7 linked regions of the Homo sapiens genome follow. The protein of the gene in region 7 purifies or fractionates together with the protein of the main gene of each other region. This does not show direct contact. Each region holds a gene or a part of one and is shown on either strand. Other genes may lie near its edges.

Evidence for each region.
Region 1: the proteins of NAAA (region 7) and CEMIP2 purify together in Homo sapiens (affinity purification with mass spectrometry; 3 studies listed by BioGRID and IntAct, with this or other methods). This does not show direct contact.
Region 2: the proteins of NAAA (region 7) and ITGA4 purify together in Homo sapiens (affinity purification with mass spectrometry; 3 studies listed by BioGRID and IntAct, with this or other methods). This does not show direct contact.
Region 3: the proteins of NAAA (region 7) and EDEM1 purify together in Homo sapiens (affinity purification with mass spectrometry; 3 studies listed by BioGRID and IntAct, with this or other methods). This does not show direct contact.
Region 4: the proteins of NAAA (region 7) and POGLUT1 purify together in Homo sapiens (affinity purification with mass spectrometry; 3 studies listed by BioGRID and IntAct, with this or other methods). This does not show direct contact.
Region 5: the proteins of NAAA (region 7) and NAGLU purify together in Homo sapiens (affinity purification with mass spectrometry; 3 studies listed by BioGRID and IntAct, with this or other methods). This does not show direct contact.
Region 6: the proteins of NAAA (region 7) and MAN2B2 purify together in Homo sapiens (affinity purification with mass spectrometry; 3 studies listed by BioGRID and IntAct, with this or other methods). This does not show direct contact.

What each region holds. Positions count from the first base shown.
Region 1 is NC_000009.12:71,730,342-71,734,408, reverse strand, and holds part of CEMIP2 (cell surface hyaluronidase CEMIP2), read left to right. Parts: intron 1-1,888; coding exon 1,889-2,058; intron 2,059-3,494; coding exon 3,495-3,704; intron 3,705-4,067. UniProt on the Homo sapiens protein: Cell surface hyaluronidase that mediates the initial cleavage of extracellular high-molecular-weight hyaluronan into intermediate-size hyaluronan of approximately 10-5 kDa fragments.
Region 2 is NC_000002.12:181,460,069-181,464,135, reverse strand, and holds part of ITGA4 (integrin alpha-4 isoform 1 preproprotein), read right to left. Parts: intron 1-4,067. UniProt on the Homo sapiens protein: Integrins alpha-4/beta-1 (VLA-4) and alpha-4/beta-7 are receptors for fibronectin. They recognize one or more domains within the alternatively spliced CS-1 and CS-5 regions of fibronectin. They are also receptors for VCAM1.
Region 3 is NC_000003.12:5,193,753-5,197,819, reverse strand, and holds part of EDEM1 (ER degradation-enhancing alpha-mannosidase-like protein 1), read right to left. Parts: exon of another isoform or gene 2,855-4,067; intron 2,612-2,854; coding exon 2,539-2,611; intron 1-2,538. UniProt on the Homo sapiens protein: Extracts misfolded glycoproteins, but not glycoproteins undergoing productive folding, from the calnexin cycle.
Region 4 is NC_000003.12:119,489,348-119,493,414, forward strand, and holds part of POGLUT1 (protein O-glucosyltransferase 1 precursor), read left to right. Parts: intron 1-1,203; coding exon 1,204-1,371; intron 1,372-2,170; coding exon 2,171-2,227; intron 2,228-2,934; coding exon 2,935-3,091; 3' UTR 3,092-4,067. UniProt on the Homo sapiens protein: Dual specificity glycosyltransferase that catalyzes the transfer of glucose and xylose from UDP-glucose and UDP-xylose, respectively, to a serine residue found in the consensus sequence of C-X-S-X-P-C.
Region 5 is NC_000017.11:42,534,870-42,539,532, reverse strand, and holds the start of NAGLU (alpha-N-acetylglucosaminidase precursor), read right to left. Parts: upstream 3,293-4,663; 5' UTR 3,261-3,292; coding exon 2,878-3,260; intron 2,717-2,877; coding exon of another isoform or gene 2,660-2,716; intron 2,136-2,659; coding exon 1,988-2,135; intron 1,195-1,987; coding exon 1,048-1,194; intron 864-1,047; coding exon 778-863; intron 1-777. UniProt on the Homo sapiens protein: Involved in the degradation of heparan sulfate.
Region 6 is NC_000004.12:6,619,777-6,624,017, reverse strand, and holds the end of MAN2B2 (epididymis-specific alpha-mannosidase isoform 1 precursor), read right to left. Parts: intron 4,092-4,241; coding exon 3,974-4,091; intron 2,831-3,973; coding exon 2,733-2,830; 3' UTR 656-2,732; downstream 1-655.
Region 7 is NC_000004.12:75,934,319-75,938,385, forward strand, and holds part of NAAA (N-acylethanolamine-hydrolyzing acid amidase isoform 1 precursor), read right to left. Parts: intron 1,918-4,067; coding exon 1,791-1,917; intron 1-1,790.

The sequences.
Region 1 (4,067 bases), on a different chromosome or scaffold from region 7:
CAAGCATGCATTAGCTATTTTTCCTGATGCTTTCCCTCCCGCTGCCTCCCCTCCATTTTCTTTTGTATTAATTTTCTACTATCAGATAATAGTAAACCCAATGATGAATTAGATCCATTTATTAATAGAAGTATTTCTTAATTAAAAGAAATCCTATGGTTTTCGAGTGCCTATTTGATTACCAAAAACAAAAACAAAAACAAAAACTCATTGATATTTAAAATGGAATCAGATAGGTATTTTCTTAAGACTACATTTCCTTGCTGGGAGCAGTGGCTCCCGCCTATAATCCCAGCACTTTGGGAGGCTGAGGCAGGTGGATCTCTTGTGGTTAGGCATTTGAGACCGGCCCGGCCCATACGGTGAAACCCCATCTCTACTAAATATACAAAAAACATTAGCCAGGCATGGTGGCACAAGGCTTGTAATCCCAGCTGCTAGGGAGGCTGAGGCAGGAGAATCGCTTGAACCCAGGAGGCGAAGGTCGCAGTGAGCTGAGATCATGTCACTGCACTGCAGCCTGGGCGACAGAGCGAGACTGCGTCTCAAAAAAAAAAAAAGACTACACAAAGAAATTCTTACTGTAAGTTGCATATTGAAAGAATGCCTGACACTTACCGGGCACTCATTTTGAGCCTGGTACTAGGCACAGCCCCTTTGTACATTGCTTCATTTATGGGATTCATTGTGCATTTCACTCATTCTATTGCTTTTCTTTTGAACTCAACATTATACATTTATGGTATAAAACAAAAGAGTTTACAGTAACTGTTCAGTAAGTGCTTCTTTAGTTTTTCAGTAATTTAGAGTAATAGGTAGAGCTTCAACATTTAAGGAAAAATTTTCTGCTTTAGAAAAAAATAGTGATTGGCTCACCTGGCCTTTTTTCCCTGTGCTTCCGTCAACATTGTACTTTTCCTTCTTGATAATACAGGGCATAAACAAAACAAGAACACTGCCCCAACAAAAAAACCCCAAAACTATGATACCATCTGGCATTAATTTTTTTTGGAAATTCCAACTCTTGTTAACAAGTCTGCATGATGAGTCTTCATGAACTGTCCTCCCAAGATTTATGTGTATTTTTCCTTCCTGAGTTTATGTAATAAGATCATCAGTGAAAAGCTCATTATTAAAGTGCTTCTACACTTCCAGTAAATGTGGGAATTTAAAAGAATGCATAATAACATAAAATAAGAAATGAGAAAGAAAAGATGGTAATTTATCTATTGTTAATGTCCAGTTGCAGATTACTTCAGCTTTCAGGTAAAAGCATAAACAAGTTGACACCCTGATATTAATATCTACACACCATTTGTTTTATGGACTCACTATGCATTTGGTTCTTCATATGCCCTAGGGGAGGAGACCAAGAGCGTATGGACAGAAACTGGAGAGAAAGATTATAGATCATTAGATTCCAGATTATTAGTGCTGTTGAAGGGAGGATTGAGCTGCTTCAGGAAGGAACAAGCTTTCTGTCAGTGTGTGGGTTTGAGAATTGGCAGAACAGTTAGTAGTGAGGGTTCAGGCAGTGGGTGGGGGCTGGACTAGATGATCTTTAAATTCCCTGTGTTGGGAGGCTGAGGCAGGAGAATGGCATGAACCCGGGAGGCGGAGCTTGCAGTAAGCCAAGATCATGCCGCTGCACTCCAGCCTGGGGGACAGAGTGAGACTCCGTCTCACAAAAAAAAAAAAAAAAAAAAAAAAAAAAAAAAAAAATTCCCCGTGTCCTGGGATTCTGATTCTGAAGTGTCAGAGAATGGGAGCAGATGATAAGTTGTCAGGATCATCTTGGGGTTATGGAATGAAGAGAATGTCTTTTTGAAGTGAGTTTCATGTTTTCTTTGTTCTAATATTCTTTTTTTTCCTTGCTCATATCAACCAGAAACCCCTCAGTTCCTGCACATGGGTGAGATCATAGACGGTGTAGACATGAGAGCTGAGGTTGGAATTCTTACCCGGAATATTGTGATCCAAGGAGAAGTGGAGGACTCATGCTACGCAGAAAATCAGTGCCAATTTTTTGATTATGATACCTTTGGGGGACACATTATGGTAGGCAAAAGGATTTGATTATTTCTTTGAAATCCTGGTTGCTAAATATATGTTTGAAGAAACTGTCAAGTTTTGGAACAAGATATAAATGGATATTAAAAGCAAATCATGTTTTGTTTCTCAAATGACAATGAGGAGGTTTTAGATGATTAAAATAGAATGTTATGACTTCAGTTAGTTGACCTGGACCTCTAGTTAAACCATTTAAGAATTGTTCCATGAAGAGTCAAATCAATATATTGGGAAGAACCAATTACAGAGACCAAAAAACAAAACAAAACAAAAAAAAACTGAAGGCTCTTGGTTGGTATCCATGCATGCGATTTCTGAAAGAATCAATTAGTTTTTTTAAAAAGCATAGTATTACCAAAGGGTTAGCAATACTAGCAAGCACATGCAAAATATGTTCCTATAAAAATATTTTTTGTATGCAAATTTTTGTTCTGGAAAAATTTTGAGCACTTACTATATGCTAGGCAGTATTCTATTAATATATACTAATCTGTTGGACTTCTGGGCTGCATTTTGGCTACATGTGTTTTTAAATCACTTTTTGTGCATTGAGTAGGCTGTGGTTGTAAGTAGTATTTCTGTTACAAGGAATTTTTTTTTTTTTTTTGAGATACAGTCTCATTCTGTCACCCAGGATGGAGTACAGTGGCATGATCACAACTGACTGTGGGCTCAATATCCTGGGATCAAGTGATCCTCCCACCTCAGCCCCGCCAAATAGCTGGGACTACAGGTGTACACCACAGTGCCTGGCTAATTTTTGCATTTGTTTTTTTGAGACAAGGTTTTGCCATGTTGCCCAGGCTGGTATTGAACTCCTGGGCTCAAGCAATTTGCCCACCTTGGCCTCCCAAAGTGCTAGGTGTGAGCCACTGTACCCCGCCTGTTACAAGGATTTCTGAAATGTCGATCAGTACTATTCCCTTGTTGTTAGTAATACGATTGAAAATCTAGTGTTTAAATATATTGAGAGTGCTCAAACTTTGGATCACAGAAGAACTTTTAAAAGTAACTTAAGCCAACAATATTATGTGCTAACTAAAACACTGGGGAGGATCTAGAAATAAATAACTATTTATCAGACTCTGATGGAGGTTATAGAAGTGAAAGAACAAGACGAGACTGGGAATGACCAAAATATTTGAACAAATCAAAACACTTAGCAGAGATCATTATTGCAGCTTTCCTGATTACATTTGCCTTTATTCCTAATTGGAGGCTATTTTTGTGGCTCTTTAAAGTATTTGCTTTTGTAAAGAAGCATTTCCTAAATTATTAACTGGCAATCTGGGAAAACAGGATGCAAAAGAAAATCGAATGTTTTAATAAGTATTCTCCTTTGGATGTTTTCTACTAGAACAATATTTTTTGCTACTTCCCTATTCTGAAAAGTATGAGTTTGATTTTAGTACCTTGACTTACAGATAATGAAAAATTTTACTTCAGTCCATCTTTCTTATGTGGAATTGAAACACATGGGTCAGCAGCAGATGGGGCGATACCCTGTTCATTTTCACCTGTGTGGTGACGTGGATTATAAAGGAGGATACAGACATGCAACATTTGTGGACGGCCTGTCTATTCATCACAGCTTCTCAAGGTGCATCACTGTGCATGGGACAAATGGCTTGCTAGTAAGTAGCCTCGCATTAGGTCAACCCATATTATTGAAATAGTTAACTCTCTTTAATTCTCATGTCTTCTCAATTTTATATATGTAAACTGTTTAGCCACATGCCTTGCTCTATCCTGCCTTTTCTGAGCATTCCACGATTTTTCTGTCTGAAGGAAGCCTACCTTTCCAACCACCCAGAGTATCCTCTTTTAAATTTAATTCAATTTTATGTCTTGTATTTTATTTTTATTTATTTATTTACAACTTATTTTTATTTTTTTCCCCTGTGGGACCCAAGCAGATTATCCCCTTCAGAGATAAATTAAGCCTGACATTTCACTTTGCCCATTCTGCTAAGGTTCAAACCTGTTTTTCCACTTGT
Region 2 (4,067 bases), on a different chromosome or scaffold from region 7:
TTTTTCTTGCTACCTCTTTGGCTTCACCCTCTTAGCCTTTTTTTCAGCCTCTTTTCTTCTCCAGCGGTTCTCAAGCATGGATGAATACTGGAATCATCTGGGGACCTCTGGAAACTACTGGTGCCCTATAGACTTACCCCAGAGATTCTAGTAGTTTGAGATGGGCCACCAGAACTGTTAAAAGCTCTGCATGAGAATTTAAGTTACAGCCAGACTTGAGCAGCACTATTCTAATCACTTCTCGAACTGTAGGAATCCTTAGAAATTTGCCATTGGCCATTTGATCTATTTACCCCAGAGAGATGGTAATCAAAGCCTTGGAGGTGAATGGGGTTACGTCAATTACTCACCTCTGATTTGCTAGTACAGACCTCTCTACTGTCTACCACACCCATACATGGAACTGATCATAGAACTGATCACTAGATTTTTACTTCTATGTCTCACAGGAATCTCAAGCCAACGAAACTCATCATTTTGCCAGAAAACCTGCTGCTCTTCCCTTTTTCAGTATATTGGATCATCATCCATGTCACAGCCCAAATTAGAAACTTCAGTAACATCTTTGGAACATTCTCACTCATCTCTTTCATTCAATAATTACCAAGTGCTATCTCCTAAATACCTTCAGAATCTCCATGTTCTTCTCCACTGCTATTGCCAGTGTCCTTGTACAGACACTTGTCATCTGTAGTCTAAATTATAACAAAATCTTCCTACAACTGCCTCATTGCCTTCAGTCTTGACCCAGTTACTCCAAAGCATTCACTAACCTGCAACCAGAGAATCTGTCAAACACACAAATCTGATCATGTCACTCCCCAGTTTTAAATATCCTAGGGTAAATTCATACTTAGAGTTGTATCAGAAGTAATTCCTGCCTGCCTCTCTAACCTACAGTTTAGCTCACACTCCATAGTGCAACTGTACACAATTTTTAGTTCTTCAAAAGCATCGTGCTCTCAAAGACTTCAGGGTCTTTATACACACAGTTTGCTCTTTCTGGCAAACTTTTCCATAGCCTCTTCCTCTGGCTAACTTCTGATTATTTTTCAGTTCCCCCACTTGAACACCAATTCTTCAGGAATGCATCACTTTATTGTCTTACCTAGATTAAATCTCACCATACTTTCCTATAATAACCTATCTTATAAACTTTAAAGCCTTTGGGACAAGGAGTATGTTTCTTTTGTATGCCCAGGTTCAGGCCCTTAGGCATCCCTCAATGAACAACTGAATGGATAAATTACCCACATGTGCAACGGATTTCAGCATCTGACCCTAGAACTGTTGCCAAGGGGATATATTTTCAAGTCATTGGGTATATCACTCAGTGACCAAGTAAACTTAAGGCAAAAACTAAAGTGCATTTAGAAAGCCTCATCTCTCAAATTAGGTGGAAACCTCATCCTTTTGGGACATAAAGTTTGGGAAACTGCTGGAAATAAGGAAACTTCTTTCTGGTAACCTGATAGTTTATTAGTGAAGCTCTCTGTCTTGATTTTCTACATAATTGTATAACAGCCTTCATTCAGGGATGATTTTTCAAAATGACCAATCTGCAATCTCAGCTTCATAAGCTACAATTTAAAGCACATTGCAAATGAAAAAGTAAAAAGTTATCAAGAAAAACATATTTGAAGTTTCAACAGTGAGATATTTGCTATTTAATGTTAAGCTAATAACTCCTATGAATCAAGTAGAAGTGAGGATTAGGTAATCATTAGTTTAATAATGCAATGCTAATTAAATTCTTTCAAATAGGTTATATAATATGAACCAGGAGGCTGGCTAAGGTAATAAAATTTCCAGAAAGAAATCTAAATATGGGTAATGGTGACTAACTTGAGATGGGTCTTTCCTGTAAGAGAGGGACAGGCAGGCAGCTTGAAGGCCCAGTAACTATAGAACACTTAGTCTAGAAAAGAAAGTGAAAGTTCTACTCATTTATGCATAAATATCAGGAAAGCATCTCCTAAAGAGATAGCGTTATTTTTACACAGAGAACTTAATGTTTCTCTACAGCAGTGCTGTCCAATAGAAATATAATACAAGCCCATTGGAAATTTTAAATTTTATAATAGCCACATGAAAAAAGTAAAAATAAAATTAATTTTATTTAACCTAAAATTTTATTTCGCCTAATAAATCCAAAATATTATGTAATCAATAATTTTAAAGTGTTTGTTTCAATATATATCATAAAAATTAATGAGTTTTCTTATACTAAGTATTCAAAAGCCAGTATGTAATTTACATTACAGCCCTCTCATCGCTGACTAGCCACATTTTATGTGTTCAAAGCCACCTGTGGTTAGTGGATACTATACTGGATAGTGTAATTGTATAACTTTAGACTATTACCCAAATGAGAGTTAGTGTGTGTATAATGCTTTCAGTGGTAACTCCAAAGTAATGAAAGATCTGGAAACATATTTGAATAACCAAATAAAGACCATCTTTTTAGTGTAATTTGATAATCATTTCTATGTTTTATTATGTTCTATTTGAATATTGATAGTCCATGGATGGACTATGCTTAACTATATTAATTGAGTCATTATTTGTGACACCTTAATTTAGGAACCAGCTGTGATTAAAGTTTCCTTTAAACAAGCCTGATGATGCAGAGTGCCCGGGTGGAAAGTGGACATGTAGAAATCACCTGGGTCTCCTCAGATATAGTCTTCACGAGCAAGTCTGGGCCCAGACCCTCCTGGCAGAGAGACCACTTTCCTCTGGTACAAAAGAAGTGAGAGAAGAGATGTCTCTTGGGGAGTCAGGGAGGTAAAAGGAGGCCAACAATATATATGCAGGAAGAAAAGCACCTTGCGGTACTATCCAGGCAACTCTCTTGGTGCTGGCTCTGCAGTCAACTTGCTTGACTAAAAGGGGTATCTCATGCCTAACGTCTCTCACCCTGGGCATTCTAGATAAACAGGCAGGCTCACTTCTGCTTATGGCATGAATATACCATATGGGACACCTTGTCCACAGAGGGTAGGGTAGGCGAGATATGGACCTTCTCTTTTGAGGGGAGGAGTCTATCTGAATCAACCACTGATCTGAAATTCTACAGAGACTCAAAGACTAGTCCATGTGGATATTTTTAATTGTGTGGGAGATGGGCACCATTTGAAGACCCTACACCTTCAGGTTCTTGATAGCAAGTAAAGCTATTCCAAAGGAAAGAAGATACCTTACTGACATGGCAATCACAGATCGATCTTTAATCATTATAACATTTTTTTCTTCAGCCAACAAAAATTTCTCATTGTGTTTCATTTCAACTTCTACCTTTTAATGTATTACCTTTTAATTTTTAAACTTTTGGTTCAGTTTATCAATTGTCCCTATTAACCTCAGCCTGCTTGTTACAGATAACATACAGATAATAGATTTAAGTAAACAATAAAGAAGAACCACTATTTTTTGAATGTATTATGTGTCAGTACTGAGCTAAGCATTTTTGAAACATTAGAGTCACCCACATTTGAAACAGGACAACTGAAGCTATTTTATACAGAAGATTCACACACACACACACACACACACACACACACACACACTCTTCTACAGAAGATGGCTTATATATATTTACACACACTCTTGAAACTTCTTCATACAAAATAGTGCATAGCCCACAAACCTAAGAATCCTAAATTATCTTTATTACCAATGTATTGTTTTTAGTGTTTTATTTCTAGACTGTAGCCTCAATCCCTATTTTATAGCTTCAAGCTACCACTGAATTTATTCTGAATAGAGAGGCAGTTTCTTTACATGAGGAATAAAAGATATCTGTATTCTTTAGAATGTTACATGAGAAATAACTTCAGTCAACTCTTCGGCAAATACTCAAGGCATTACTATCACTATTAATGTTTTAACTCATTGACTGACTAGGAATCTTGCCTTTTTTCCTTTCATCCCAGTAAATACCTTGTAGATTGGCCAAAATTTTGAAAGTTAAAAATCAGTTTGGCTCATCATTTCTAATCAATTATCTTACTCATCAGTCAGGTTGATAAATTTTCACTCCACTTTTATTCATTCATCCATCCAAA
Region 3 (4,067 bases), on a different chromosome or scaffold from region 7:
TTTCTAGCTTTCAGTTCTTTCTTTTTAGAAGATGATGCAATAATGCTGCAAGTTGCATCCAATGGTCAGGGGACTGCTATCTTCACAGTGTTTCCCTAGCACATCTGTTAAAGCCTGTTTAAATGTTAGCAAAAGAAAAGGAAAACTTCAACAGAAGTAACACCTGAAAAATAAGCCTGAAGCACTAAAGGCCGGATATTCTACAATGAAAACCACAGAGATGAGTCTGTTTCCTTACAGATGTTTACCAGCAACAATATCTGGTGAAGCTGCAGGTGCTGACAGGAGCTCAAATCAAGTGAGGAAGGTGAAGGAAGTCAACAGCTCTTACTTATTGTAGTTTATCATTATGGTCAGATAGCTATAGAATCCTGAGTGACTATGTTCTGAAATCACACTAATGTTTGAAAATGGCTGAATGGGACAGAGGAGCTAAATGGGTTTGTTTGTTTGACTGTAGGACTTCTCAGAGTCTTTAAAATGCTGATGGGCACTGTGGCTCTCTAATAGTGGGACCAGACATACGGAATTTCTCAAGTTCATTTAGAAACAGAACTCTTCTTTCAGGGAGTAAGTATCTTTGGAATCTGTGTTGGGAAATGCTTCATTAGTCAGAATTCATTTTTTGAACAAACATTTGCACTGCTACTGTGCACCAGACACCATTAAGTGTGGGGGAGAGTATGGTGAACAACAGAATAGCAGGCAAGATGGAGGGATAAAAAAACAAAATGGGGAAAAAAAAAAAAAAAAAAGCCAGCTACTCGGGAGGCTGAGGCAGGCGAATCACTCGAACCCAGGAGCTGAAGGTTGAAGTGAGCCAAGATCACGCCACAGCACTCCAGCCTGGCGGCAGAGCGAGACTCTCTCAAAAAAAAAAAAAAGAAAAGAAAAGAAAAGAAAAGACGACGACGATGACAAAGCTCTCAGGGACAAGGAGTAGGCTTTCATGAGCTATACATTGAGTCTTAGGACGTTTCCTTTAAGCAACACTTGTAGGCTGAGTCAGCCTCTGGTATCATCAACAAATTAGCTCTAAGGTCGAACATACTTGTCTGGGCACATTTTGATCAGTGATGGTAAATGACTGAAACAGAGCAGCAATAACTTCAGAAGGAGATATTGGGAAACTAAGTTGCTTTGTAATTTAAATTATACTAAATCAGTACCCCAGATTTCCTATTAGACCAAGGGCCTAGTCCTATTTCTACTACTTATTTATAAAATGAGGACGTAGAATGATCTCTCAAGCTCTTTCCAAGTTCTGGTAATTCTACTACTAGCAAGATACTAGACAATCATAATGCAAACTTGGCTAGCACATTACCCAATTCTTGTGTGTGTGTGTGTGTGTGTGTCTCCAGAGATGGAGTCTCACTCTGTTGCCCAGGCTACAGTGCAGTGGCGCAATCTCAGCTGACTGCAACCTCTGACTCCTGGGTTCAAGCATTTCTCCTGCCTCAGCCTCTTGAAGAGCTGGGACCACAGGCGCCCGCCACCATGCCCAGCTAATTTTTGTACTTTTAGTAGAGAAGGGGTTTCACCATGTTGGTCAGGCTGGTCTCAAACTCCTGACCTCAGCTGATCCTCCCACCTCAACCGCCCTAAGTGCTGGGATTACAGGCGTGAGCCACTGCGCCCGGCCCCAATTCTATCTCCTAACAGACAGCTTTAAACTCTTCTATGGCATGTTAAAAGAAACAAGAATAAATAAAAGTACAACATTTGGGCTAGACTGCAATAAGATATTTCTCATGGTAAAGACTTGCTGGACAATGAAGGAAAGCAAAGAGGTTGTAAAAATCACCTTAACTAAGAAGATTTTAAAACAACACTATGCTGGAATACAGTCCCCTGGAAACTGCTTTAATGGCAAAAGGTGAAGCAGATGAAGCACACAGACATGGCACCATGTACTGAGTGCCACACTGCCTTCAAGGTGCTTCTGCATATCTGCTCAAAGGCCTCTAGTTCTCCAGAGTCAATGAGCAAAACCACAGGATGAGGCAGTAATGCCAGCACCCACGTTGGCAGCTCAGGCATGGAGTGTCCACAAAACAGGAAGTGGCAAATAAAAGAGAAGGGTTTCTAGGGAGCCCCACATAAGGATGGGCGCTAGGGCTCCAACTTGCTCCTGGGGGAGCCAGTGGCTAGATGACATTTCAGGGTACCTGCCAACCCTTAGATCTTCTCTCTTTTACTCCTGGAATAGCAACGACTATAATTATCAATATTAATGAGCTTCATTATGGGTTCTTTTAGGGAATAAGATAGAAACTGGTTAAAAAAAAATAGGTTCCCTAAAATCAATCGTACATTCCTTCTCCTTTTTTTAATGGAATCACATTTCCCCTCATTTAACCTTCAACACTTTTCTTGTTCTCCCCATTAAGGTCATTAAAATAAATAACAGTTATCAAAGCTAATGATACATTTTGACTTATCAGGCTCCCTGGAATTCCCACTGCTGGAGGGAACTAGGGATAATCAACTCTAAAACATCTTAATTCATTTTTTTAAAAAAAGGTGAACACTTACTGCAAGTGTATCCAATGCATCAACAAGAGTCAATGAGTAGTTCCCTAGTACATCATTGATGTTCAGATTTGAACTGAAAAAGAAAATTAAAATTCAACAAAAAGACTTTATTTCAAAAGAGAAGACAATAAAAGTAAACACCCATCAGAAACTATAATTGCCAGCAACTCTTATTTATTCAGGAACTAATTATGGGTGAATTAATACAGCAAAGGTCTTTCTACCCCCAAAGTAACACTTTCTATGGTGTCCATAAGTAGAATCAAGTCACAGAACTGTGGAGACACACTTGTACCAGAGTGGAAAGAATGCTCACAGGAAGTCAGGAGGCAGTGAGTCATCTCCTCTCTGAGATTCAGGTTTATCACCATAGACAATCTCCTTGGTCCTGTCCAACTTTAAAAAGCTCTGATTTCACAATCATTAGGAACTAAAGAAGAGCCCTTGTCATACGACCCACCTGTAATACTTTAATACAGAAATTAGACACCACAGCCTATATTACACACAAAAAGAAGTAAATACATTAATTGACAGTGTCAATATTACTCATCTGCCCTATGGTTGGGGGTATAAATTAACTTCTTTACACCATTTCTTCATTAATAACTCATCCAAAGGGTCTTGATTATTTCCGTTAATTCTGAGATATCATTTAACATGAACCTAGGCAGGAATTGAGGCCTTTCTCACTTCTTGACTGGAGCTACATAAACGTTTCTGCCACACACCTCTCACCCCATAATCTACACCAATTTTCCATTCTGAAACAACCTTAAGAAACCAACTTCAGGATGACAAGGGTGAAGCTCCTCAGGCACTGTGGTATGTCTTTGTAACACTTTACAAAAAAGTCAACAACAAAAAAACTAATACATCTGGGAGAATAGGGATGAAGAACTAGTAAAATAAAGGACAGTTTGAGAAATTCTGGGGACTTCATTTATTTATTTGTCCCATTCCCAAAAATCCAGAAAATAAGTGCAGAAGCTTGGAAAAAATGATAGTAAGAGAAGACATAAGACAACTGTTTAAAGATTTTATTAGCAACCAAAGCAAAAAAGCTCCAGTTTTATTTCCAGCAAGATGCATTGATATCTGCAGTCTTCCATCATATCCCAAAGCACTTCATCTGCTCCTCGGATCACCCTAATGGGTCCTTATCTCACCTTCCAGTCAGAGAAGCTTCTGGTGCACAGCACCTCTCGTGTTGTGATGGCTTGCTGTGGTCTCTGAAAGGCCTGTGCCTCAGCTGGGGAAAATGGGGCTTATGTGAAAGAGGCATAACAGCTCCAATGTCTCATTTTATTTGAACCCTCCAGTTGCCTTGTTTTATGCTGTTACACCATCTAATCTAAAGCAAAGAATTTATAGTAAAATTTTAGGCTGGGTGCGGTGGCTCACGCCTGTAATCCCAGCACTTTGGGAGGCCGAGGTGGGTGGATCATCCAAGGTCAGGAGTTCAAGACCAGCCTGGCCAACATGGCAAGACCCTGTCTCTACTAAAAATACAAAAATTAGCTGGGCGT
Region 4 (4,067 bases), on a different chromosome or scaffold from region 7:
ACTCGGGAGGCTGAGGTAGGAGGATCCTTTGAGCCCAAGAGTTCAAGACCAGCCTGGGCTACATAGTGAGACCCTGTCTCTAAGAGAAATAAAATAAAATTCTGGGACTAAGAATTAGATGAACAGGTAAAACCAGGTCTAGAGGAGGGCAGTGGTGGTGGGGGTGGCTCAGAGTTAGGAGTGCTAATGACACGCAGAGTAGGAGCTATATGGTGAAAGCAACTCTGGTTGGCGACAGGTGCGTGCATAAGAAATGCTGAGAAGAAGACAGCTTTTTTTGTTTTTTTTTTTTCCCCTGTGGGCAATCTCTGAAAATTGATTAGGTTTTCCTCATTCTCCTCTCTACACCAGGGGTCCCCAACCCCCTGCCATGGTACTGGTCTATTAGGAACCAGGCTGCATGGCAGGAGGTGAGCAGTGGGGAAGCGAGCATTACCGCCTGAGCTCTGCCTTCTGTCAGATCAGCCTTGGCATTAGATTCTCATAGGAGCACAAACTGTATTGTGAACTGTGTATGCAAGGGATCAAGGTTGCGTGCTCCTTATGAGAATCTAACTAATGCCTGATGATCTGAGGTGGAACAGTTTCATCCAAAACCATCTCCCCCACACTACCCATCCATGGAAAAATTGTCTCCCATGAAACTGGTCCCTGGTGCCAAAGAGGTTGGGGACCGCTGCTCTATACTTTAAGAGAAGAGGGTGATGTCCAGGAAGCAGTGGAGACCTTCGACCAGATGGGGTACACTAGAGGAAAAACAAGGCTTTGGGAGGCCATGACTAGTTAGAGACATTAGGCCTAGAAAAGCTTGTGAAATTTTTTTCACTCGTTTTATTTTATGTTTACCATTGAACATTTATTTTCTCAGATATGTTCCAAATCTACAAGCTGTCATTTCCTTCTGAGCCCTGTATACACTCTACCCGGCACCCAGCTCCTGACCCTATCTAGTGCTGTCTGGAGAAAATATCCCCTATTTTTCCTCACCCTGCCATTCCCAGAACAACCTGTAGTCCTAGCCCTGGTAAAGTGGCTGATAGAAACCACTTAGGAACATATTAATGTGTCCTTGAAAACTCAAAGTGGAAAGAGAATGGAGAGGAATCATAAAAGGAAAGAAGGGGAGGGGAGAATAAGCATAAAAGGTCATATTTGTGGCAGCAGGCATATAGTATCAAATGTATTTTGTTCTTTTTTCCCCAGGTATCTGTTTAATTTTCGAGGCGTAGCTGCAAGTTTCCGGTTTAAACACCTCTTCCTGTGTGGCTCACTTGTTTTCCATGTTGGTGATGAGTGGCTAGAATTCTTCTATCCACAGCTGAAGCCATGGGTTCACTATATCCCAGTCAAAACAGATCTCTCCAATGTCCAGTAAGCAGTTATCCCCCAATGCAGAGTTTCTAAAGACCCTTCCAATCTGCTTTTAAAAATGCCTTAATGCCTTAAAACCAGTCATGTAAGACATTTAGTCCTACGATTTTTTTCCATTGAAAGCTTTTTTTCCTCTTGGTTTGCATATATAGTATTGCATTATTATCCAAGTAGGCTATAAGTGGAATTTAATTTGAAAAAGCGCTTTAATACTGGTTTCAAATGAAACGTTCAGACAAAATGAAGTTAAAAAGCTCTAATCTCTCCAAGACTAAAGATAGGGATATTCAATCTTATTATATTGTCAAAAGGATTTTCAGATACAGCATGAGAATTGACTCAAGTGAAGCTTCAGCAAATTTCCTTTCATGACAGGAGGAGCTAGGAAGAAGTATAGAGAAGGGCCAGAGTTATCTGAATATTGTTATCATGGTGATATCTGTGTATATATATTTTTTTTCTATATATAAATATATTTATATATAAATATGTAAAATAATATAAATATCTAATATAATATATAATATAAATATACAAAATATATGTAAATATATAAGGTAACTTCTGTATTTTCTCAAATATGTCCCAAATCTACAATAGGGTATCTTTAATCAGTGTGTGGGGGTTTTTTTTTGTTATTATTTTGTTCTTGAGAGAACCCTGATATCTTTGCTTGAAGGAAATAATCCACCATCCACATACCTAAAATTATCCATAGACCTCAATCTATATCGTCTTTCTGACTTAGTGCCAATGAAGTTGGTCTATATTTCACAGTCTAAAATTCTTTTCATTTTAGAGAGCTGTTACAATTTGTAAAAGCAAATGATGATGTAGCTCAAGAGATTGCTGAAAGGTGAGTTCTGTTCATTTTCCCTTTTCCACTTTACTTTTTGTCATCCCCATTATGCCCTAGCCAAAGTTATCTGAATATTGTTATCATGGTGACATCTGTATTTTATCCTCATTATATGGAGATAATTCAGAACTAAACCTGTCCTGGGGGAAAACATACACACATGTCTACATATGCTTGTTTTAAAGGAAAAAGATGGGCCGGGCGTGGTGGCTAACGCCTGTAATCCCAGCACTCTGGAAGGCCGAGGTGGGCGGATCACCTGAGGTCAGAAGTTCAAGACCAGCCTAGCCATGGTGAAACCCCATCTCTACTAGAAATACAAAAAAATTAGCCGGGTGTGGTGGTGCGTGCCTGTAATCCCAGCTACTCGGGAGGCTGAGGCAGGAGAATCACTTGAACCCGGGAGGCGGAGGTTGCAGTGAGCCAAGATCGCACCATTGCGCTCCAGCATGAGCAACAAGAGCGAAACTCCGTCTCAAAAAATAAATAAATAAATAAATAAATAAAGGAAAAAGATTGTTAAGTTGTATTGCTACATGCATGTATGTGGATATGATTGCCATAGGGTTGGTTCTTGAGGCTCAAATGAATTAATTTATATAAAATGCTGAATAATGCTTGGCACAAGGTGAGCACTCAAATGCAGACTGCTATTATCATTAAATTCTGTGCTTTAACATTTTCTTGTTAAATCTTGTCTCTAGGGGAAGCCAGTTTATTAGGAACCATTTGCAGATGGATGACATCACCTGTTACTGGGAGAACCTCTTGAGTGAATACTCTAAATTCCTGTCTTATAATGTAACGAGAAGGAAAGGTTATGATCAAATTATTCCCAAAATGTTGAAAACTGAACTATAGTAGTCATCATAGGACCATAGTCCTCTTTGTGGCAACAGATCTCAGATATCCTACGGTGAGAAGCTTACCATAAGCTTGGCACCTATACCTTGAATATCTGCTATCAAGCCAAATACCTGGTTTTCCTTATCATGCTGCACCCAGAGCAACTCTTGAGAAAGATTTAAAATGTGTCTAATACACTGATATGAAGCAGTTCAACTTTTTGGATGAATAAGGACCAGAAATCGTGAGATGTGGATTTTGAACCCAACTCTACCTTTCATTTTCTTAAGACCAATCACAGCTTGTGCCTCAGATCATCCACCTGTGTGAGTCCATCACTGTGAAATTGACTGTGTCCATGTGATGATGCCCTTTGTCCCATTATTTGGAGCAGAAAATTCGTCATTTGGAAGTAGTACAACTCATTGCTGGAATTGTGAAATTATTCAAGGCGTGATCTCTGTCACTTTATTTTAATGTAGGAAACCCTATGGGGTTTATGAAAAATACTTGGGGATCATTCTCTGAATGGTCTAAGGAAGCGGTAGCCATGCCATGCAATGATGTAGGAGTTCTCTTTTGTAAAACCATAAACTGTGTTACTCAGGAGGTTTCTATAATGCCACATAGAAAGAGGCCAATTGCATGAGTAATTATTGCAATTGGATTTCAGGTTCCCTTTTTGTGCCTTCATGCCCTACTTCTTAATGCCTCTCTAAAGCCAAAAAAAAAAAAAAAGACAAAGCCTCTTAATAAATTTAATGGAACTATACATAGAACAGCAGCTCTTCCTCACCCTTTGCATACCTTTAATATTTTTCCTTCTTAAATTGGCCACAGCAGGGGTCATTCACACTCTCACTGTCTTGCAGGAATCACAAGAAGTCTTCATATGTGAACGTGCCATTCAGTTGGTAGTTAAGAGCATTCAACTTCAAATATATAGAAGATATTTGTTTTAGTGCAAATCCATGATGGAGTGCCTCCCTTT
Region 5 (4,663 bases), on a different chromosome or scaffold from region 7:
ATTAAGTCCTACGAGAGTATGGGAGCCAGACATTAGCAGGTGCAAAGGAGGTCATGCGGGGCACTAGCAAGGCTTCCTGAAGGAGGGGAGGTCTCAGGTGAGCCTTGAAGACTTTTCCCAACCACATGTGAGAGGATGGCTGGGAAGCACAGAGGAACAGGAGGGACAAGGGACACTGGAGCACCCCTGCTGCCACTCCCAAGGGCTGCCATTTGCTAGCACTCTGTGCAAAGTCACAGATAGATCGAGAGATAATTACAAACCCTACAGCGAAGTGGGTAGAGATCCCATTTTACAAGTAAGGAAACTGAGGCACAGAGCAGTCATGTCATCTGCCCGAAGTCACACAGCTAATTAGTAGCAGAGTCAGAAATCAAACCCAGGCCTACGTCCAGAGCTTGTTTGTTTGTTTGAGACAGAGTTTCGCTCGTCACCCAGGCTGGAGTGCAATGGCGTGATCTTGACTCACTGCAACGTCTGCCTCCCAGGTTTAAGCAATTCTCCTGTCTCAGCCTCCTAAGTAGATGGGATTACAGGCGCGTGCCACCATGCCCAGCTAATTTTTATATTTTTAGTAGAGACAGGGTTTCACCATGTTGGCCAGGCTGGTCTCGAACTCCTGACCTCAGGTGATCCGCCCAACTCGGCCTCCCAAAGTGCTGGGATTACAGGCGTGAGCCACTGCGCCCGGCCCAGAGCTTAAGTTTTTAAGTCATGTTCTAGAAGGGAATAAAATTCCCTCTCTGAGCTAAGTGGAGGGGGTGAGCGGAACCTCACCTGGTGACAGCCTCGGGAACATGCCCCGCGAATGCAGGCAGCACTGGGGTCATGCCGAAGGAGCGCATCTGGTCCAGGACCCGGTGCTGGAGGAACAGAAGGAAGGGTGGTGAGCATGGCCACTGCTGTCCTATGAGAAGGCCCTCATCTCCCAGGATACACGCAGCCCCCCGCCTCAGTTAAGAGCCCTGGGGCCGGCCTAATACCACCCTTCCTGGGCCCATGACCATCTATCACCGATTCTGCCCCTTCCCTTTTCCATCCTTTTACCTGCAGGTAAAGCTGCTTGATGTGCCAGGAGGGGGGCAGGGGGCCATCCCAGGTGTGCAGGTTGCCCATTCGCCCCCAGGCCAGGAAGGCAGGACCAGTAAAGAACTCATTGATCTCTGCCTGGGTCAGGCCCAAGGCCAGGTACACCTGAGGAAGAAGGGCCCACACATAGAAATATATTCATCTTCATTCATTCATTCATTCATTCAACAACCATTCACTCATTGCTTCTTTGTGCTGGGTGCTAGGGCTACTGAGACAAAATCCGAACGCTGCCATCAAGGAGCCCACAGCCCAGAGGAAAGAGACCTGTGAGTAGGTGAGTTCACTGTGTTGCCTTTGTCGCATGGGTGAGGAGATGGGGCACAAAGGGGCTTTCCCCCAACAGGAAGGCCTTAGAAGGCTTCATGGAGCAAGAGTGCCAGATGGAAGGGCAGGGCAACTGTGTGAAGAGCTTAAGCAGAGCCTGGAGCAGCCATTGCAGCACAGAAGCTTCCAGGGAGGCAGATCTAGAGCTGCCCATGAGTTGGATCCAAGGGACCAGGTGATTGGCTGCATAGGGGAGATGGGGGAAGGAGCCCCACTCCTCAAACTGGAAGCCTCAGTTTTTTTTTTTTTTTTTTTTAGACAGAGTCTCGCTCTGTTGCCCAGGTTGCTATTTCTTTGTATTTTAGTAGAGACGGGGTTTCACAATGTTGGCCAGGATGGTCTCGATCTCCTGAACTCCTGATCCGCCCGCCTAGGCCTCCCGAAGTGCTGGGATGACAGGCGTGAGCCACCGCGCCCGGCCGGAAGCCTCAGTTTTTAGGAGGCCCAAGCCACTGTGCACGCTGAAAGCACTTCTAGAGAGAGACACTGCGCCCATGCTGGGGGGCGGGTGAAAACACCTACGGTGGCTCCCGCCATAGAGGAGGGTGGGGAAGGGACAGTGGGCACGCACCCGCTGCCAGATGGCCTCCTGGCCGCTCCAGGCCAGTGCCAGGTTGATGCCATTCAGCGCCATCCAGTCTATCTCTCGCTCCCAGCGGGCCCAGTCCCACCACACGAAAGAGTAGCTTTGCGTGCACACATTCTGGTAATAGCGGTACCTGCGGGCAGTGTCATGAGCAGGGGCGCATCCCACCCTGGAGGGTCCACGGCCCTGGAACAAATCCCCCATCCCCCACCTAGAGGAGAGGGGAGGGGCTCCAAACTCGGCCCTTCTGCTGCACACTGGGACCCACCCCAGGTGGAGCTGAGACCAGGTACCGGGGCTGGGCTTCTGAGGCACTCGTCCCCTGCACTCTCCCAGGGCCCTCTAGCCTGGCGGGTATTTGGGTGGCATATTCCACTTTCATGCCACACTGCCAGAGCCCCTCCTCTGCACGGTGTTTTCCTGGAACGGGGAATCCCTGCCCCCACAGTCTAACAGATGGGCAGGGGAGGACAGCTGTGTGAACACATCACTCCATAGTGTGGCAGGCGCTGGAACACAGGCCTGTAGGGTGGGGGATGGAGGCGTCCTTCCTCAGTCCGCAGGTTCAAAGAGAAGGTGGGGGAGGAAGGCAAGAAAATTCACTCATCACCAATTGTGCACCACAAATTCTATGCCCATCATCGTGCAAATCCTCACAATAACACTGCACGGTAGGCGTCTTCTTTCCGTTTTTCAGGTGGGCCAGCCGAGGCTCTGAAAGGCAGAGTGGCTGGCTCAAGGCCACACAGCTGCTGGAGGCGGCGCAGCTGGGCCTTCCGGCCAGCGCTCCCCGCTCAGCCTCCCGATTTGGGTGGCAGCGGCTCCGGGAGGGGGTAAGCGCCTCGGGCGGACGCGGGGAAGCTTCGGGGCGGTACCTGTTGGGCGTGGCCTCGGTCAGCTCCCCCGGCACGGCTGGCAGTGGCCGCGGCAGGCGCAGCTGAGAGCCGGACCAGGCCACGTGGCAGCCACAGAAGTCGCGCAGGTAGCGGTGCAGCCCCGCGGCGGCCGCCACGCCCGTGGAGCCGCGCACCCGCACGCGCGCCGCGCCGCCGCCGCCCAGGCTGTAGGTGTCCAAGCCCGGCTTGGCAGCCAGAGCGCGCTCCACCGACACGGAGAAGTCGGCCGCGGGGCCTGGCCCCAGCAGCCGGGCCACGAGCGCCCGCACGGCCGCCGCCTCCCGGGCCTCGTCGCCTGCCGCGCCCCCGGCCCCGGCCAGGAGAAGGACCCCCACCGCCGCGGCCACCGCCACCGCCTCCATGGTCTCAGTCCTGCGGGTCCCGCGACGGCCAGGGGGTGGGGCGGCCCGCGTCCAATCAGCTGCCGGCCTCCGGCCACGTGGACCCGAAGGCTAAGCCCGGGCTCAGGGCCAGGAGTCGCGGCTTCCGGGTACCAGGATACTCCCTTGGGGGCGTCTCGTGACCGCACGCGGTGGGGAGCGTGTGACCCCGGCTCCAGGGCCGAAGGGGACCCGCTGGCCCTCACAGAGCGCCTTCGGGTAAAACGCGCTTTCACACGCAAATAACTTCCATCCAACCATCTAATAAATACACATTTGGAGTTTATTTTGTATCAGGCACTGCCATAGCTACTTCCCTACTGATGAACGAGAAGACGGTCCCTACCGTCCCCGTCAGGGAGGTGACCTAGAAACCAGATATTTAACGTAAGTAAGGATTTCCATCATAGTTGTGATGCTGCGAAGTAGTGCAGTAAGTAGCGAAGTAGCGAAGTAAGGTTTCCAAAGGAAGTGACTTTTAATCTGAAACTCAGGGATGAATAGGAATTGGCTAGAAGAGGGAAAGGAAGAGCCTTCCAGACAGAAGAAATGCATTTATTGAAGGCCCTGAGAAGGCAGAGAGCTTGCAGATTTGAGTAACTAACAGGCTAGGAGGTTCGAGGAGGGATGGGGCCATGTGAGCCCAGGCCGGCGGTGGAGCAGGGCTGGCGGGCACGTTAAAGGCTGTCCATTGGCGGCAGCAGCAGCAACATAACAGGAGCTGTCATTTTGTCAGAAGTTTCCAACCAGAGCGACTCCATCTTGAACAGGGGCTGGGTAAAATGAGGCAGAGACCTGCTGGGCTGAATTCCCAGGAGGTTAGGCCTTCGTCACAGGATGAGACAGGAGGTCAGCACAAGATAAAAGGTCACAAGACCCCGCTGATAAAACAGAATGCAGCAAAGAAACTGGTCAAAACCTGCCAAAACCAAGACAGGAAGGTGACCTCTGATCGTCCTCACTGCTCATTATACGCTAATTATAATGCATTAGTATGCTAAAGACACTCCTAGCAGCGCCAGGCAGTTTACAAATGCCATGGCAACGTCCAGAAGTTACCCTATATGGTCTAAACAGTGGAGGAACCTTCAGTTGGGGGGGATCCCCACCCCTTTTCTGAAAAATTCATTACTAACCCACCCCTTGTTTATCATATAATCAAGAAATAACCATAAAAATAGCCAACCTTAGGCCAGGAGCGGTGGCTTACGCCTGTAATCCCAGCACTCTGGGAGGCTGAGGCTTGCAGATCACCTCAAGTCAGGGGTTTGAGACCAGCCTGGCCAACATACAGTGAAACCCCGTCTGTACTAAAAATACAAAAGTTAGCCAGGTGCTGGGCGCGGTGGCTCACGCCTGTAATCCCAGCACTTTGGGAGGCCAAG
Region 6 (4,241 bases), about 69 Mb from region 7:
AGTTAAGAGGTTCCAGTGAGCTATGATAGTGCCACTGCACTCCCACCTGGGTGACAGAGCGAGACCCTGTGTCTAAAAAAGTAAAATGAAATGAAATAACAACAAAGCAACAAATGGATGTTAGATTTTAGCCAATATTCTGTCTATTGTGGGTGGGTTTTCCCCTGTCATCTATATTCTTCTCACTCTTCCCAGTTGAGGGTGCTGGGTGCTGGAGGGACCGCAGGGGGAAGTGGCTCTCTTGCTGTTTCTGTTCTGGACGGGGATGGTCAGCATGGGTGATGGTACTTTCAGTGCACATGATTTTTCTACAGCCTGGCTGCGCTGGGGATAACATTTCCATAGTCTTCTTTATTTTTTTCTGAGACAGGGTCTTGCTCTATTACCCCGGTTGGAGTTAGTGGCATGATCATGGCTCACTGAAGCCTCGACCTCCTGGGCTCAAGTGAGCCTCCCACCTCAGCCCCCAGAGTAGCTGGGACCACTGGTGCACACCACCACGCTCGTCTAAAGAATAGTTTTTGTAGAGATGGGGTCTCACTATATTGCCGAGGCTGGTCTGGAACACCTGGGCTCAAGCGATCCTTCTGCCTAGGGCTCCCAGCGTGTTGGAATTTCAGGCATGAACCACCACGCCTGGCCTCCGTAGTCTTCCTTTTTTTTTTTTTTTTGAGACGGAGTCTCACTCTTGTCACCCAGGCTGGAGTGCAGAGGCGGAGGTCTCCTCCGCCTCCCAGGTTCAAGTGATTGATTCTCCTGCCTCAGCCTCCCGAGTAGCTGGGACTACAGGCGCACACCACCACACCCGGTTAACTTTGTATTTTTAGTAGAGATGGGGTTTCACCATGTTGGCCAGCCTGGTCTTGAACTACTGACCACCAGTGATCCGGTTGCTTTGGCCTCCCAAAGTGCTGGGATTAAGGCATGAACCACTGCCCAGCCTCCATAGTCTTCTTGACACAGAAACCAAGCCTCATGCAGCCCACATGCTCTAAAGGGCTCCTGCCTCACTCCTTGTGCCTCAACCTCCCACTGCACATCCATGCCTCTGGTGGCTGCTCACCTGACCCCACCTCACAGGGGTGGCCTATTGCTTGGTCAGCAACTCCAGCCCAGCTCCTGCCTGGCCAAACCAGAGACTGTCTTTGCTGTCTGGTGGCCAAACTGCACGTTGTCCAGAGGTCTGACTCCTTCCAAGCTGGTCCTTTCTGGGTACTTTCCTTCAGCCCTAGAGTACCAAATAATTTCCTACATCTTACAGTTTACTCTTTAAAACGGTTTAGGCCGGGCACATTGGCTCACGCCTGTAATCCTGGCACTTTGGGAGGCCGGGGCAGGCAGATCACCTGAGGTCAGGAGTTCCAGATCAGCCTGGCCAACATGGTGAATCCCCGTCTCTACTAAAAATACAAAAATTAGCTGACGCAGTGGTGCATCTCTAGTAGCAGCTACTCGGGAGGCAGAGGCTGGAGAATTGCTTGAACCCAGGAGGTGCAGGTCGCAGTGAGCTGAGATCTTGACACTGCACTCCAGCCTGGGCGACAGAGTGAGACTCTGTCTCGGGAAAAAAAAAAAAAAGTTTTAAAATTGAGATATAATTCACAGACCATAAAATTCATCTTCCAAAGTTTTTAATTCATTGGTTTCTAGTATATTCACAAAGTTGTGCAACCATCATTCCACAATTTCATCATCTTCCAAAGAAAGCCCGTCCCTGTTAGCTGTCATGCCTCTTCTCTCTTCCTCCAGTACCTGGCAACCACCAATGTGCTTTGTCTCTGATACACAGATTTGCCTATTCTGGACATTTCACATAAACTCGTGATTGGCTTCTTTCACTTAGCGTAATATTTGTAGGATTCACTCAGGCTGTGGCATGCGTCAGAATTTCCTTCCTTTTTATGGCCAAATAATATTCCATTGTATGGACAGAACACACTTCATGTCTTAATTCATCTGTGGATGGACATTTGGGTTGTTGCTACCGTTTGACTTTTGAGTAATGCTGCTATGAACGCGGGAGCACAGGTATTGTGTGGATGGATGTTTTCAATTCTCTTGGGCATAGACCTGGGAAGGTTATACTTTTATTGATATTAATAGTTCTGATATTGGACATCCCTGCTGTGTGGTTTCACCTCTCATGGACTCTGACGGCTGCTGTGCCTTCTCTGCTCGGCAGGCGGTGCCCTGAGGCACAGGTGGGCGTCTGGGGCTGGAACTCTCGCTAGGCGCTACAACTTCCTCTCCTGCCCTGTGGCAGAGCCAAGCCCCTTGCAGGGCTGTTGCCAGCATGGGATGAGTCTATGAAAACACGTGGCACGCAGTAGGTCCACAGTTACCACTGGCAGCCTGGCAAGCCTGGCAGGGCCCGGACGGCAGATGCGCTTCGGTGCTGCTGTGAGTCTTGTGCTCTGCCTTAGGCAGAAAGTCCTGGGTTTGTGTTTTGTGAATGAATGACGCATGAGTGTGCCAAATATCCTTTACGTGACAGAAGAGGAGAGGGCTGGCTTGATTGAGTGTGGGGGGGAAGAACCTGGATCTTGTAATGTAATTTTTGTTTAAAAAAATTAGGGAAAAACCCCAAATATGACCATTTCCTGCCATTAGCCTGCAGATGAGCAGCTGACTCCCCAGTCCCATCCCTCCGCACTGCTTTTCCCTGTCCTGGGTCTGTTCTGTTACATGGAGTTCCTGGGGGAAGCCCTGGGGCCGGGGCATCTGCCCAGGGCTCACTGCTGTTGAAAGTGAATAAAGAACGTCCGGATTTCCTTTGGGTGGACGGTGATGATGGGGCCTCCTGGTGGCCTCGAGGGAGAGGTGGTGTCACCTAGGGGAACAGAGGTGATCTGTCCAGTGTGGCCTGGGATGCCTCCTCCCAGCCTCCCTCTCACCCCCTGCACCTGTCTACAGTCTGCTGTGGCTCCCAGCCTCCCTCTCACCCTCCTGCACCTGTCTACAATCTGCTGTGGCTCCCAGCCTCCTTCTCACCACACTGCACCTGGCTACAGTCTGCTGTGGCTCCCACCGTGGCAACGGCCTATGGCATCCCCTTCTGCCAGGACTCCTGTGGGCCTCTTGGCGTTTCTGCCCACCCTGAGGGCAATTCATAGGTTGGTCCTGGCCCTAGTGGCCTCAATTCCTCATGGGTGTTGCCCTCAAAGCCCAAGAGCTTTCTGAGACCATCTGGTGAGTCTGCCCTTGCCTCACCAGGCTCCCCTGAAGGCATGCCCTGGGGTTGGGCTTCGATCTTGGGAGGGAGCCGTCCACTTATCTATCACTCATCCATCTTCCTTCCTTCTTTCCAACCAACATCATCTTCCCTCCCTCCCTCCCTCCGTCCCTTCCTTCCTCCCACCACCAACTGAGCGTGCACCATGCACCCGCCACCATGCTGTGTGTAGTGGACAACGAGCTGCACAGGACAGAAGAAACCCCTGGGGCCAGGAGAGTGGAGGAGGCACTTGGCCTGGTTGGTGACTCTGGGGAGGCATCCTGGGGAGCTTGAGCAGGTGCTGGCCAGAGTGAATGGGACCTGTGCGTCCCAGGCAGAGGGCATGGTGCGGACAGGGAGTGGAGCCTGGAAGCTGCCTGTAGTGCAGGAGCTCACGGTGGCACATGTCGTATGAGGCAGGGACCGGCTGATGGGCTGAGGTCAGCAGGGCCAAGGTGGGCAGAAGCCCCTGGGCCCCTAGCTGTCACCCAGGGCACAGGCAGGGCGTGTGGTCTGCGTGTGCACACGTACAAGTGCACACACACGCCTGTGTGGAGCCCTGGCAGGCAGAGACTAACCCAAAGCCTTTCTTAACCGACTGTAGTAGATTTGGGAGGGCTGCGGGTTCAGAGTAGGAAAGCAGCCTCGCAAGGTCGCACAGGCCGGGACAGGCAGATGGTTGGATGTGCACCGGGTCTGACCAGCTGCTGAGCCTGGCTGGGAGTCCTGGGTAGGGAGCTGAAGCGGGGGTCCCCAAACCTCTGTGGCGGCCAGGCCCCGTCCTCCAGCTCCAGCGGTGCAGCATGCTCAAATCCCAGGTCCCTGTGAGCGAGCGCTCCTCCACTGCCACCACGGACCCCAGCGCCTGCAGCACAGCCTGCAGGGAGAGGAGCAGAGGGAGAGTGAGCTGCACCAAGTTCCAGAGCTGAGCAGAGAACCAAGACAGCAGCAGGGCAGACACACCACGAACTCGGTGTCCTCAGGAGCCCAGGTCCTCCCCTGGTGCCTGACACAGCTCCCTCATCTG
Region 7 (4,067 bases):
TTTTGTTGTTGTTGTTGAGATGGAGTCTCACTCTGTCACTGGGCTAGAGTGCAGTGGTGCGATCTCAGCTCACTGCAACCTCCGCCTCCCAGGTTCAAGCGATTCCCCTGCCTCAGCCTCCCAAGTAGCTGGGATTACAGACACCCACCCACACGCCCAGCTAATTTTTTTTTTTTTTTTTTGTAGTTTTAGTAGAGACGGGGTTTCACCACATTGGCCAGGCTGGTCTTGAACTCCTGACCTCGTGATTCGCCTGCCTCGGCCTCCCAAAGTGTTGGGATTACAGGCGTGAGCCACCGCGCCCAGCCAAAAATACTTTTAAGATTACAAACACTAGACAAGAATGAGAGATGAATTATTTTGTGGATAACCTGTTCTTAATTTCATAAAACAATTTCTTGGCCATGAGTCCTCCATAGAAAAGCAATACCCAAGTGTAAACTGTCTATATTCAGTAACAGTCACCTGAGTACTGAGAGTAAAACTACCTCTACAGACTATTTCTCTATAGATTATTTCATGGGAACTCCAGGAAAAACAAAAACAAATGAAGCAACAACTATTAGAGTGAGTTTCAGAGCAGCTGAAATAATTTATTTTCATTGCATTTATTCCTTTGTCTCTTTATTAAGAGTATTAGCTCATTATAGAACAATGGAGAAAAAACATGAATAAATAATAAATAATATTATCCTTCATTCAGTAATAACTTAATATTTAGCAGATTTCCTTTGAGAATTTATTATGCATTTATATTATCGTTACCACTTAAAATCATTTTTAAAGTAATTCAGCTAGAAATCAAATTGTTAATAGTGGCAAAGTAAAGAAATGGGACTGGAAAGGAGAAACTTTTACTTTAAATATTTCTGTACTGTTTGAATTTTTTATGAAAAAAAGTGTTTGTAAAAGCAGATGACTGAGTAGTTAGTAAATGAGTTTTTAGTATTTGTGAATCAACCCCTAAATGCAAAGAACAAAGGGAATATAGTCCTTGTCCTTACAGCCAAAATCTGGCTTTTGCACTCTGTATTCTGTTTTACAGCAAAACATGCTTTGCGTACTCAATGAACATTGATTAATTCTGTCTCTCTAAAAGTTTACACAGTTGACAACAGCACACACTAGATTATAGTTTTAAAGGGACCATGCTATAAACAAAAGATCTAAGTATAATTTTTTAAAGATCATACACAAGAAAGTGGTGTGGGTCAATCACACTTGCAGAATGAAGGACCATTTATTATTTGGCTACAACTTTACATAGACTACTTCATTTAACATTTATAACTATCGCAGTAAAGTAGTTATGAGCCTCCATGAGCTGTAGTCTGCAAAATTAGGGAATGAGTAATTTCTCAGGTTCACAAAGGAAGTACAGTAATTGATAGAATCAAGATTTAAACCTGGGACTGTCAGATCCCAAAGTTGGGTGTTTCTAGTTATTGCACTACCCAGCCCCTCCATATTCCAGAAGCAGCCTGGGCATGGGAAAGCAGAGGAAAGAGCTGACTCTGCATAAGTGGATGATTGATCACTCTCTAAAAGAGATTTCCCTATGGAAAACTGGGTGACCTCTTTAAGTAGACACTGAATAATAAATAATAAATGACCGTCCTTCCTATAAGCATAATTGATGCAAACCTCTCTTCTGGCTTTGTTTTTCCAGGGGTGTGATTTTTTTGTGTCTTACACTGATAACACACTTAAGTTAGCAGGCCATCCAAATGACTGCTAACTTGAGTTTGCAAATCTTTCTGATTTTTTATCTTATATGGTACGGATTATACCTGCCCATTCTTTAAGAATTGCACATCCACTGTCAGCTTGCGTAAGACATTCCCAAAAGGATAATCCAAATTCCGACCATGGTAAATGTGGCCTCTGGAGTCTTGAGCCACAATACTGGTGCAGAACCTGAGAAAAGGGAAAAGTCCAACATGAATGAATAAGACAAATAAGAAAAAAAAGGAAAAGGAGTTTTTCATTTGTAAAACAAATCCTCAAAGTAAAAGTTTTTCTTCCTTATAACTGATATATGTGCTATAATGCTTGTATAAGAATATAGATTAACAATTCAAGATGAAAAACACAACTGGATACAACTCATCTGTGTTCATTCAGTGTTTCTAGGATCTTTACCCTTAGCACACATGGAGGGCATCATAAGCATAGTAAGTGAGAATTTCATCCTCAGTCTAAATCTGAAGTGAAACTAACCCATCCTGGGCTCAGGACACCTCTGAACTCTGCTTTTTCCTCTGCATGGCAGCATGTATTCTATTTAACACATGATTCAAAGCCAGCTCAAGCTCACCTCTCCATATATGAATTCCTCAGAGCAAATAAAGTAACACTAAACCATTGTTTCACAAATGTTTCATTTTGTCCCCTTGGGAAAATGGCTGGCTCTTAAGGGACTTGGCACTTTTCCTTTCTCTCTCCAGCTCCTTGCACAGAGATCATAATTTTAAAAAAGGGGGAATCTCTATGAACAGAAGTATTGTGAGAAAAAGAGGAGGAGGCTTGTTAAGTATCTATCCATATTCTCTGAGAATATTTAACTGTACATGAAAAAATATTTATATACAGTATGTCCAATACCAGAGGGAAAAATATGTATATCCACATGAACAAAACTGAGAGAAAATATCCTGAAGGGTTTTTCTGGTCATTTTTTAATAACAGGATGGTGGTTAGCTTTGTTTTTTTACTTTTCTACATTTACTGATTTTCTACAACGATTACATGTTACTTTTATAATTGGGGAAAAAAGTGTTACTTTTTGTTTGTTTGTTTTAAGATGGAAACTTGGGCTGGGCAAGGGCACAGTGGCTCATGCCTGTAATCCCAGCACTTTGGGAGGCCAAGGTGGGTGAATCATGAGGTCAGGAGTTTGAGACCAGCCTGGCCAACATAGTGAAACCTCATCTCTACTAAAAATACAAAAATTAGCCGGGCATGGTGGCGCACACCTGTTGTCCCAGCTATCTGGGGGGCTGAGGCAGGAAAATCGCTTGAACCAGGGAGGCGGAGGTTGCGATGAGCCAAGATCGTGCCACTACACTCCAGCCTGAGTAACAGAGTGAGACTCCGTCTCAAACATAAATAAATAAAATAAAATAAAGACGGAAACTTGGTCAGTTTTAATTCCCTCCAAGGTTTCTGTTATTTATTTATTTATTTATTTATTTTGAGTCTCTGTCACCCAGGCTGGAGTGCAGTGGTGCAATGTCGGCTCACTGCAGCCGTGACTTCCCGGGCTGAAGCGATCCTCCCACTTCAGCCTCCTGAGTATCTGGGACCACAGGCGCAAGCCTCCACATCCGGCTAATTTTGTGGTATTTTTTGTAGAGACAAGGTTTTACCATGTTGCCCAGGCTGGTCTCGAACTCCTGGGCTCAAGAGATCCATCCACCTCAGCCTCCCAAAATGCTGGCAATGCAGGCGTGAGCCACTGTGGCCGGCCACCCTCCAAGGTTTCTGAGCTTAACTTCAAAGAGTTCAGGTCAGGGAGGGGACTGGTAAGACATGGGAAGTACTAAAGCAAAGTTTGTGGGATCTCTCTCAGAGGCGATTTTTCAAAATTGGCAAGATAACAATACTTCCATCTCAGGCCCAAATGTTGTAGTGTGATGCAGCAGTGCACAAGCATGGGAGACAAATGAGGAAACAGGCTCTGCTTTGAAAGGCACTGCAGCGAACTGGAGATTCCCATGCTTTTAGCACTCACCAGCCACCTGACTTCCAGCAAGGTGGCCCCACTGAGGCTTGGTTTCCACATCACAAAACAGATGATACCATCTTCCCCACGGGACTGTGTTCATGAAGTGCCTGGCACCCAGTAGGCTCAATAAAGGGTAGCTAGTATTATTCTAATTCAAGAAGGCTTACTTCCAACATGAGAAGAAAGCATTTCCTTTGTTAATGCTAGTGAATTGAATGGTGCTATTAGGCAATTCAATAAATACCTTAGTATCAAATCCAAAAGTTAGAATGTTTTTACTAGAACTTTTGCTTTAATGTGTTTGAATATGGTGACTCCAACAGATGAGGGTAAAAATGAT